Linked DNA regions of Homo sapiens: all the other regions are reported to be linked to region 3. Evidence: microRNA targets listed by miRTarBase, many of them from high-throughput screens and not tested one by one. Region 3 holds a microRNA gene; each other region holds the end of a gene's coding sequence.

Region 1 (3,000 bases), not on the chromosome of region 3:
GGGATCACCTGGGGCCCCCTCCCTGTGAGCAGCCCAGCCTCAGGGCCCTGTTTGTGCTCCATGTGCTGGTGGCACCGTCTCTGAGCACTGGTGTCCCCTCTGTCACATTGGTCAACGGTAGCCCCTGCAGCATCCGTTTGCTGCGAGGCTGTGGGGATGGTCCCCGCGGCACCTTCCAGGAGGGTGGCGCCATCGGGCCATCCAGCCCACACAGGTGCTCACTGACTGCTCCCCATCCCCTGCACCAGGCACTATGACATGCGGAGGAACGACGACATTATAAACTTCTTCAATGACTTCAGTGACCACCTGGCTGAGGAGGCCCTATGGGAACTGTCTCTGAAAATTAAACCCAGGAACATAACAAGGAGAAAAACAGACCGGGAAGAGAAGACCTAGGAGCAGACGCCGGGATCCAGGAGAATGCTCGAGGGGCGCAGAGGGCAGCTCCCAGACCGGAGAGGACCTTGGACCTGTTAGGCGCATGGCAGGAGTCCCGGCCTCGGAGCCATGAGGCTGGCCAGCCCTCAGCGGGGCCGGGCGGGAGCTGGAGCCTGCCAGCCGCTTCCTGCCTCCTTCCTCTGTGGGAGCAGACCCGTGGGCCTCAGGGCAGCCAGCAGGCAGGTCTTGTTGCCAATTTACAAACCGGTGGTTTTCTGGTTTGGTTTTGTTTTCTGCTTTTACTTCCATCTCTCCCCTCTTGACCTTCCACCCACTCCCCTCCAGGGAGAGAGCAGCAGAGACCTCATCAGCAGACCAAGGAAGTGGTGGGTGCTCCCCCTCCCTAAGCTCCAGGGTCCCTGAATCTTCTGAAATCTCAAATGAGTGGAGGCCTCCTGGGGTGGCCTGTCCTGCAGGGGCCCTGGAATGGGGGCAAGCAGCTGGGTGGGCAGAATGCAGAGTAGACTCGGGGGAGGATCCTTTCACTTTCCGCTTCCCCTTCTGATGCATGGAGGATGGTGTGAGCTTTTCAGCAGGCCCGGAAAGGTACGCAGGTGACGCCTTAGCAGCCCCGCAGCTGGTGCTCTGCCCCGCGGTACTGGCGCCATCAGGGCCTCCCTTGCCCGCCTGAGAGCAGCAGCAGTCTCTGTCATCCCGTCGCCCCTTACCCCCCACCCCAGGCCACTGGGCCCCTCCCACACCACCTGGGGAGCTGAGAAGAGGAGGCTGGAGTAAGGGAGGACTTGATCATCCAAGAAATACTTTTTATTGCTGGGAGTCTTCTGAACCTCACCAAACTGAGGCCAGAGCTGAGCTCCTGGGGGAGTTAATTCAGAGGGGAGAGGCCAGCACCTCCCTCCTCCATCGCTCGCTGTGTGCCTTAAACTCCATCTCATGTCCCTCCCCATCCCCTGGCTTTCCCTCCCTCCTTGCCCCATCCTGGGCCAGCCAGCAGGGCTCCTCCTCTGGCTCTTCAGACCTTTCAGCCAGTGCTGTCAGTGCCCCTGGGAGGGAAGGGCATCCCTGAGGCACCCGAATGGTCCCTCAGGGTGCAGGGAGGCAGAAGCCTGGCCACAGAGGAGCCTCCTAAGGCAGCAGCTGCAGCAAGCGCACCCTCTCCCCACTCTCCCCACGCCAGAGCGGCTTCCAGAGCAGATGCTGTTTCCATCCTCCTCGTCAAAACCATTCTCGCTGCTGAGCTTGACAATCTGGGCAAGGCTTGTGGGGCGCTTGACAAACAGAATCTGCCCTGTGCCGCCTGGTTCCGTGGCCTCCAGCATGAGCCTGCAGGCAGGGCGCTGCGGGAACCCAGTTGTGCTGCCCCAGCCCATGCCTCCGGGTCTGCTGTGCATGAATGAGTGCTCACTTGTCCCGGGTTTAGGACGTGGTCAAGTGAACAGCAGGGTCTAACTGTGCTTACTTAGCCCAGTTCAAACAGAACAAAGGAAAAATATAGAAAGCAACATCTGTTGATCATTTAGGTTTTTTTTTAAACCACCATGTCACTTTGAGTCCTTCATGGGTTTTTGAACAGCATTTATCAAGAAGAAAATGTGGGCTTTTTCCCCTCTCCCGTGTTTTGTTTGTCCTGTAGATAGAGGGAGGAAAGCCGTGCAGTGGCAGGCGGGACCCCCTCTGGTGGCGGGACCCCCTCTTGCGGTGGTCTTGCGGGGCCAGCCGGGACCTGTCACTTTATTATTTAAGGAGTGTGTGTGTAGAGTCGCTGGCTTATTAACAGTATTGTGTGTGGGTTGGGTTTTTAGTTTGTTCCTTCTTTTTGAAGTCCCTTCATTTCAATCCTTGACTCTCTCTCCCCTTCCCTTGCCCAGCTCTGTTGAATGCTGCTGTGCGCGTGTGAGGGCCGCTCTGCACACAGGGCCCTTGGGTTGTGTGAACTGAAATTCTCCCTGTATTTGTGAGACTCGCAGGAGTCCCCATCTGTAGCACAGGCAATGCCAGTGCCATGCTGCAGCCTCAGAAACCAGGCCTCTCACTCCAGCAGCAGGCAGAACCGTGTCTGTGGTCGGGTGCTGTCCACAGCTCTGTCTGCCTTGTTCTTGGGCTTGAGCTGGATAGAGGTGGGGTCTCTTCACCTTCCCTGAATTCAGAACAGACCCTGTGCCTGGCCCCAGTGTGCCCAGGCAATTCCCCAGGCCCTCACTGGGAGCCCTTGGTGTTCTGAGCAGCAGGGCCCAGGCAGCACATGAGCAGTGCCCAGGGGCTCCCTGCGTGAGGACGGCAAGGTGCGATGTATGTCTAACTTATTGATGGCAGGCAGCCCCCTGTGCCCCCTAAGCCTGGCCCTGGTTATTGCTGAGCTCTGTGCTCAGTGCTGCGGCCTGGCCGTGGCTCGTCTGTTCCTTTGGGGGGCCCGGGCGGGTTGTGGGAATCAGTCTTCACAGACAGACGTGAGCCAGGCGGAGGACTCGTTCCTTGCAGAGGTCAGTCCTCACCTGCAGGTGTCGGGGTGTGGGGGGGCAAGGAGGGGCAGGCACACACCATGTCTGACCTGAACCCGATTCTGGGGAGCATCTTCCCGCTCCGGCCCCACGACCTCCA
Region 2 (3,334 bases), not on the chromosome of region 3:
AGCTCTTCCTTAAAAATACAGAGCGTACCTGGCCACTTCTGAGCAGTCCACCTCCCCACGCTGGTCCAGATCACCCTCAGCTCTCATGAGGCCAACTTCAGTAGCCTCCTGAGTGGTTTTGCTACCTCTGTTTTCCCCAGCTCCACAATCTTGTTTTCCACCAACAGAGTAATGTTTTCGAAACATAAGCTTGACTCTGTCATTTATTGGCTTCAAGCCCTCCAGTATCCTCCCCTCTCACTCAGAATCAAATCCAGTTTCTTATCATGGCCCTAGGGACCAGCCCGCTGCCTGTCTGCCCTCAATTCCCACTACCCTTCCTCACTCCCTGGCCCCCAGCCTCACTGGCCTCCTCAGTGCCTTTCCTGGAGCAGGCTGGAAACACTCCTTCCTCAGGAAGCTTCTCCTTGTTGCTCCTTCTGCCTGGAACCCTCAGATGCAGACCTTGCTCCCTTCCTTCCTTCAAGTCTCTGCTCAAATGCCACCTTAGCAGAGGGCCTTCCCTGACCAGTCTCTCTAACATAGCGCCCCTGGCATCCTTGGACCCTTTCTGATCCCAACTCTGATTTTGCTTACTACTGACTGCTACCTGTCATAATTAACTTACGTGTTTGTTTTTGCCCATCTCCTGACCATTAGTAATACCCCAAGGGGACCTTTGGTGCCTGGCACATAGTGAGTGCTTAGCAGCTGGGCAGGAGGTATGGCATAGTCTGGAAGAGGTTAATGCAAGTGGCCCCTGGTCACTGCACTGCCTCTTGCCTGCTGTGTGCTTTTGGGCAACTTTACTTAACCTTTCTTAGTTTCAGTTCCCCCTCAGTAAAACCTACCTGGAAGGTTTTTTAGGAGGATTCGAGGTAATACATTTAAAGTACCTGAGACATGATCAGTGCTCAGACGGGGGCTACACAGGCCACTTAGCTGCCCTCTAGGCCTGTTTCCAAGAACTTACTAGTGCTGCCTCCATCTACCCCCAGGATAGAGGGCTGCCACAGTAGATGAAGGTAACACTATAGAAGCGGTTACTGACTCTATTCTCCATGTCATACCCTGACCCTGGGTCCCCTGGGCATTGTTTCTGGCTCCAGCCAGTTCTCCTCCATCCCCCAGCACCATCAGTTTCTTTTTTCTTTCTTTTTTTTTTTTTTTTTTTTGAGATGGAGTCTTGCTCAGTCGCCCAGGCTGGAGTGCAGTGGCGCGATCTCGGCTCACTGCAAGCTCCGCCTCCCGGGTTCACGCCATTCTCCTGCCTCAGCCTCCCAAGTAGCTGGGACTACAGGTGCCCGCCACCAGGCCTGGCTAAGTTTTTTTGTATTTTTAGTAGAGACGGGGTTTCACTATGTTAGCCAGGATGGTCTCGATCTCCTGACCTCCTGATCCACCTCCCTCGGCCTCCCAAAGTGCTGGGATTACGGGCGTGAGCCACTGCGCCCAGCCTTTATTTTGTATTTTTTTATTTTTTGAGACGGGGTCTCTCTCTGTCACCCAGGCTGGAGTGCAGTGATGCGGTCTCAGCTCACTGCCAGCTCTGCCTCCCGGGTTCACGCCATTCTCCTGCCTCAGCCTCCTGAGTAGCTGGGACTACACCTGGCTAATTTTTTGTATTTTTAGTAGAGATGGGGTTTCACCATGTTAGCCAGGATGGTCTCGATCTCTTGACCTCGTGATCCGCCCTCCTTGGCCTCCCAAAGTGCTGGGATTACAGGTGTGAGCCACCGCGCCCAGCCATCAGTTTCTTACCAAAGCCCCTCAGATGATGGTCATGTCTGAGCAGGTCCTGCAAGTTGAGACCCTCGCCAGCCCTGCTTTGGATCAAGGTGGCCCCCGATGTGGGAAGCCAGAGGTGCTTGCTGGGAATGTATAGATATGTTTGGACTTCATGAGCTATGGACCCCAGGGGTCCTTCTCTGGCAAAGCACCCATGTTTGTGAGGTGGGCACCGCTTAGCAAGGCAGGTGGCTGGCTAGTCAGGTAGGTTTTCCCTGGCTGCTCCAGAAGGTGAGTCATGAGTAGTTTCCCTGTGGGCCACCAGGGGGCACCAGAGGTCGCTCAGCTCTTCCGAGGACTTGATCCGTCTCAAGATGACTGTCTCCTCCCTCTTCGGCCTAGGACTTTCTTGAAGGAAAAGAGCTGTAGTGGTGCCTCTCTCATCTCCTAACTTGCTAGGGACTGCCAGTCAAAGCAGGGCCACAGTAAAGGACTGAAGGTCAGGATTCCAGGCTCAATATTCTTTATTGATAAGCATTAGTGAACCCCTTGCCCTGGGAGCTCAGCCAGTCCTGCTCTCAGATTCCTGGCCTTAGGTGGGAGAGCATCTTTTCCTCATGGATCAACTGTCCATGTCTGACTGTGCCTAACTTGCCAGATCATGGGTCAGGGAGACAGGCAGCAGGTATTGGAAGGTGATGGCCAGGTCCTTTTCCCCAGTGACCACTCTCCATCTAGAAGCACTCTGCTTCAGCTGCGCAGGCTCTTCCGGGGACTCTGGGAGCCTGCTGGTTAGATGGAGGAGTTGAGCCTCTGACACCTCCAGGTTCTGCCTGCCAAGGGTTCCTCCGCAGCCGGGCTGAGCTGAGCAGGAGCAATGGGCTCTCGCTTCTGTCCTGAGGTTCTTGGGTGGTGAGCAAGAGAGCTAAGGGCAGGAGGTCTTACGTGGTGCCTCATAGGGGATAGAGATGCCAGAGACTGTGGAAGATGGGGTGGGAGGGAGGGATACCCCAGAGAGAGAGAGAGAGAAACAGAGAATCAGTTGTTGAGTCCCTGGATCTGATTTCACCAGCTTATTCTTGGCCATGCCCATAGTCCTTGGGAAACCCCTCAGTTCTAAATAGATAGTTCCTTGGGTCCTGGGTGTACCTTTGCCCCCCACTAGCTTGTAGAGGTAAGAATTATTGGCCGGGTGTGGTGGCTCACGCCTGTAATCCCAGCACTTTGGGAGGCTGAGGTGGGTGGGATCACGAGGTCAGGAGATCAAGACCATCCTGGCTAACACGGTGAAACCCTGTCTCTACTAAAAATAGAAAAAATTAGCCGGGCGTGTTGGCGGGCGCCTGTAGTCCCAGCTACTTGGGAGGCTGAGACAGGAGAATGGCGTGAACCCGAGAGGCGGAGTTTGCAGTGAGCCGAGATCGCGCCACTGCACTCCAGCCTGGGCAACAGAGCAAGACTCTGTCTCAAAAAAAAAGAATTATTATAGTGGCGTGTCCTCCTGAGCCAGGCACCTCATAGAATCTTCTTGCCTGTTCAGCAAGGCCTTCCAACCCTCCATCCATTTCTCCCTCAGGTCAGGACAGCAGGGTGACAGTGCCTGGAGAAGGCCCTGGCTCCCCTGAAA
Region 3 (3,334 bases):
GGAGGTGTTCTCTCCCCTCCATGTGTTTCAGCTGGGGGCATCCTCCCTCCTCCTCAGGGGAACCAAGACTTAAGAGGCTAAAAATAGCAATGGCTTTGTGGAGTTTGGGTTTCGGTTGGTGGCAGGAGTCACGCTGGTCCCCACGGAGTCCCCCTGAGGCTTCCAGTCGGCAGCCCCAGAAGCCCTACTGTGTTCAGTACCAGCCCTGTGCCCTGGCCACCGCGGACTCCAAGACATGAGCCCTCCCCAAGCCCAGGACCCCCTCGCCAGGCAGGCGGAGCCTGGGCAAGGCTGCTCCAGTCAGAACTTAATTTCCCTCACGTGTTAGCTCAGTCATCCTTCAAAAAGGAGAGGCCCCAAAATGCAAAAGCCGGCTGTTGGGTTGCCTGGAGCTGCCGCGTGGTGCCCAGGCAGAGCCTGGAGGAGCTGCCCCCCCCCGGGCCCAGCCCCTAGCCACCCTGCCTGTCTGGACACACTGTGCCGGACGGAGCACCCCACTCCTAATGGAGACCCGCTAGCCCCAGCAGAATCAGGGTTGGTCCAGCACAGTGCACCCCCTCCAGCTCTGAGTCCCACACTGCGGGTGGCTGCCGAGGGGTGCGCGTCCCCCCCCTCGCAAAGCGGGCGTCTGACGGGAAGGGCAGGTGTGGGGAACTGCCTGGGGGCGCAGCGCTCACCTCCCGAAGGGGGCCCGACGAGCACGGCCACCGCCTCCATCAGCAGCACCAGGCCAATGGCACTGGAGAACTTGTGGGTGCCCACGATGGCCATGAGCACCTCGAACTGCAGGGCCCCCACCATGCCGTAGGAGATGCCAAAGAAGATGCAGAAGACCACGAGGCCGCCGTAGTCGCCCGCCGTAGAACCCGCCAGGTCCGCGAGGCCGTTGAAGAACATGGAGAAGCTGAAGAGGTAGACGGAGTAGGGCCGCACCTTCCCAAGCCCCGCCACGAAGCCCGCGGCCGGCCGCGCGAAGATGTCAATGAAGCCCAGGATGGTGAGCAGGAAGGCGGCCTTGGTGTCGGGCACGCCCAGGTCCTTGGCGTAGCTCACCACGAACACGGGCGGGACGAAGAGCCCCAGCACCATGACCGAGGCGGCCACGGCGTAAAGCACAAAGCCGCGGTCCCGGAAGACGCTCAGGTCTAGCAGGCGCCGGGAGGGTCGCGGCGGCCCCGAGCCCGGCTGGGCCGTGACCACCAGGGGCCTCATGAGTGCGGCACACACGCAGCAGTTGAGCAGCAGGCCGCCCAGGATGAGGAAGCCGCCCCGCCAGCCGTAGCGGTCCTGCAGCAGCTGCCCCAGCGGGCTCAGGGCACACAGGAAGACAGGGCTACCTGCTGCCGCCAGCCCGTTGGCCATGGGGCGCCGCTTGCTGAAGTAGCGGTTCAGCATGATGAGCGAGGGCTGGAAGTTGAGTGCCAAACCCAACCCTGGAGGAAAGGGAATGTGGTGAGAGCCCCCCAAGGCTGCCCCAAAGCCCGAGACCCTCATCTCTGCCCCCAGGTTCCCACAGGCTCAGGCTCCCAGGGTGCAGAGCCCCTGCCACCCACCCACTCGAGAGGGGGACAACGAGGTGGGGCCGGGACACCCCGCAGCCACCCGCCCTGCTGTCCTCCAGAGGCCTGGACCCAGGAGCAGAAGTGCACGGCCCCTGCCCCTCCTGGCACGTGCGGCCCACCGGCCGGCCCCACTCACCCGTGATGACCCCAGTGGTGAGGTAGACCTGGATGATGCTCCGGCAAAAGGACGCAGCCACCATGCCCAGCGACGCAAAGAGACCCCCCACAAGCATGACGGGCCGGCAGCCAAAGCGGTTCACGCACACACTGCAGAGCGGACCTGGAGAGGGCAGCAGCTGAGAGGGGCCGGGCCTGCAGCCAGCTCTACCCCCGCCAGCCGACTGAGCTCACAGCCTGGAGCCGGCCTCCCCTTCCCACACCACCCCTCCCCCCGCGGGGCACCAGGGGCACCCCGTGGGCAGGCTCCCCGAGCGCAGGCCATGATGACACGTGAGCGCCGCCTGCTGGGCCCCTTGGGTCCCTGCAGCTCAGGAACAGCCACCTTTTCAGGAACGGCTCTCAGGAGCCTGTCCTCTGAGACGGTCTATAAATACAGCCGACCCGTTTGGACAGGGGCCAGGATGGACTTCGCGCCCTGCCTGGGTTGGCCCCGTGGAGAGCATGTTGCTGCCCAGCAGGATCCTGGCCCCAAGGGCTTCCCTCCAGGGTTCCCTGGGGAGCAGGCGGAAGGCCCTGTTGCTGAGCCCAGCTACACGCGCCCAGCAGGATCCGCCAGCAGAGCCCCGGACAGGGGGCCCGGTGTGAGGCCACCCTCACCTGTCCCGTAGAGCATGGCCAGCAGGATGGAGGAGATCCAGGCTGTGTCGCTGTAGCCGATCCCAAACTCCTGTATGAGCTCCTTGAAGAAGACACTGACGGCCTTGGGGAAGGCGTAGGAGAAGCCAGTGATGACGAAACAGCCGAAGAGCACGGCCCAGCCCCAGCCGCCGTCAGGGGCCTTGACGCCTGTGGGGCCCTCGTCCACCACGGCCCCTCCCATGGCCAGGAGGGTTGGTTCCGCCTCACCTGAGAGAGAAAGCAGGCTGACTCAGGCTGCCCGGGTGACCATCCCAGCTGCAGCCTGGCAGGGGAGGGACACGAGCTGGGTGGCCCGGCAGCTCAGCTGAGGGGCAGCTGCCCGGCACCCACACTTGTGGCCCCCTGACCTGGTGTCTGGTGGAGGCAGGAGGGTTTGGAGGGAGGCTAGCAGCTGTGGGTCCCACTCCCTCTGCACTGCCTCCTGCACCCTCACAGCTGGCTCTAAAGGGCAGTGGCTTTTTTGGGCTCGGCCAGGACTCAGATTACCTCCTGGGACAAGCAGCCCCCGACAGGAACATCGACCTGGCCGTCATTTCTGCCCTGGCTCGCTCTGGCTGACCCGTGCTGGGCAGGGACCACGCACACCATGATTCTGGCAGCAGACGGCACCTCCGGTCCCCAGCACTGAGCTCGCCCCAGGACCTCTGGGGTTGGCATCCTCCAGGTCTCTCCCGGTCTAAATCTAGGTGGAGCGTGCCTTGCTCTGGCTCTCCTGCCCCCAAGGGCCCACTTTGGCTTCAGTGGAGCCCACCAGGAGCTTGCCCAAGAGGAGGCGGGCAGTCTCTGGCGGTGAGGGGCTGGGCCCCAGGCTGGAGGGGGCAGTTGGAAGCACAGGGGCTGCAGTATTAGAGTGGGTGGGGTGGGGAAGTGGGGGCAGAGCTGGCCCCTTGTCCCTGGATGCCCCCTTGCCTCCCACCGGCCCTCTTGCTCAGTGACTCCTCCAGTGAGATCTT

What was found. Region 3 holds the annotated microRNA hsa-miR-6787-3p (UCUCAGCUGCUGCCCUCUCCAG, at 1,843-1,864, opposite strand). A microRNA usually pairs through its seed, bases 2 to 8, with sites in the 3' UTR of a target mRNA and lowers its output. Matches are read on the target gene's strand: a 7mer-m8 pairs with bases 2 to 8, a 7mer-A1 pairs with bases 2 to 7 and ends in A, and an 8mer does both.
Region 1: the mRNA of RAPGEF1 is a reported target of hsa-miR-6787-3p. Seed matches in the 3' UTR shown: 8mer at 1,152-1,159 and 7mer-m8 at 1,249-1,255.
Region 2: miRTarBase lists POLD4 as a target of hsa-miR-6787-3p. Seed matches in the 3' UTR shown: 7mer-m8 at 2,049-2,055 and 8mer at 1,510-1,517.

Annotation. Positions count from the first base shown.
Region 1 is chr9:131,576,896-131,579,895 of GRCh38, reverse strand. It overlaps RAPGEF1 (Rap guanine nucleotide exchange factor 1), which reads left to right. Exons shown (of 27, transcript NM_001377935.1): 27 at 249-3,000. The coding sequence ends at 399. Among named protein-coding and RNA genes, the nearest start is that of PRRT1B, 33 kb to the right of the region's middle. RefSeq lists enhancers at 468-547, 748-877, 908-957.
Region 2 is chr11:67,349,335-67,352,668 of GRCh38, forward strand. It overlaps POLD4 (DNA polymerase delta 4, accessory subunit), which reads right to left. Exons shown (of 4, transcript NM_021173.5): 4 at 1,438-2,685. The coding sequence ends at 2,661. All of the region lies in intron 2 of LOC100130987 (a long non-coding RNA gene), which reads left to right. Among named protein-coding and RNA genes, the nearest start is that of POLD4, 2.5 kb to the right of the region's middle. RefSeq lists an enhancer at 2,892-3,334.
Region 3 is chr17:82,235,237-82,238,570 of GRCh38, reverse strand. MIR6787 (microRNA 6787) reads right to left here and starts at 1,903; the gene lies at 1,843-1,903. It overlaps SLC16A3 (solute carrier family 16 member 3), which reads right to left. Exons shown (of 5, transcript NM_004207.4): 2 at 2,340-2,588; 3 at 1,699-1,842; 4 at 678-1,433. The coding sequence starts at 2,562. RefSeq lists enhancers at 541-1,312, 2,137-2,326.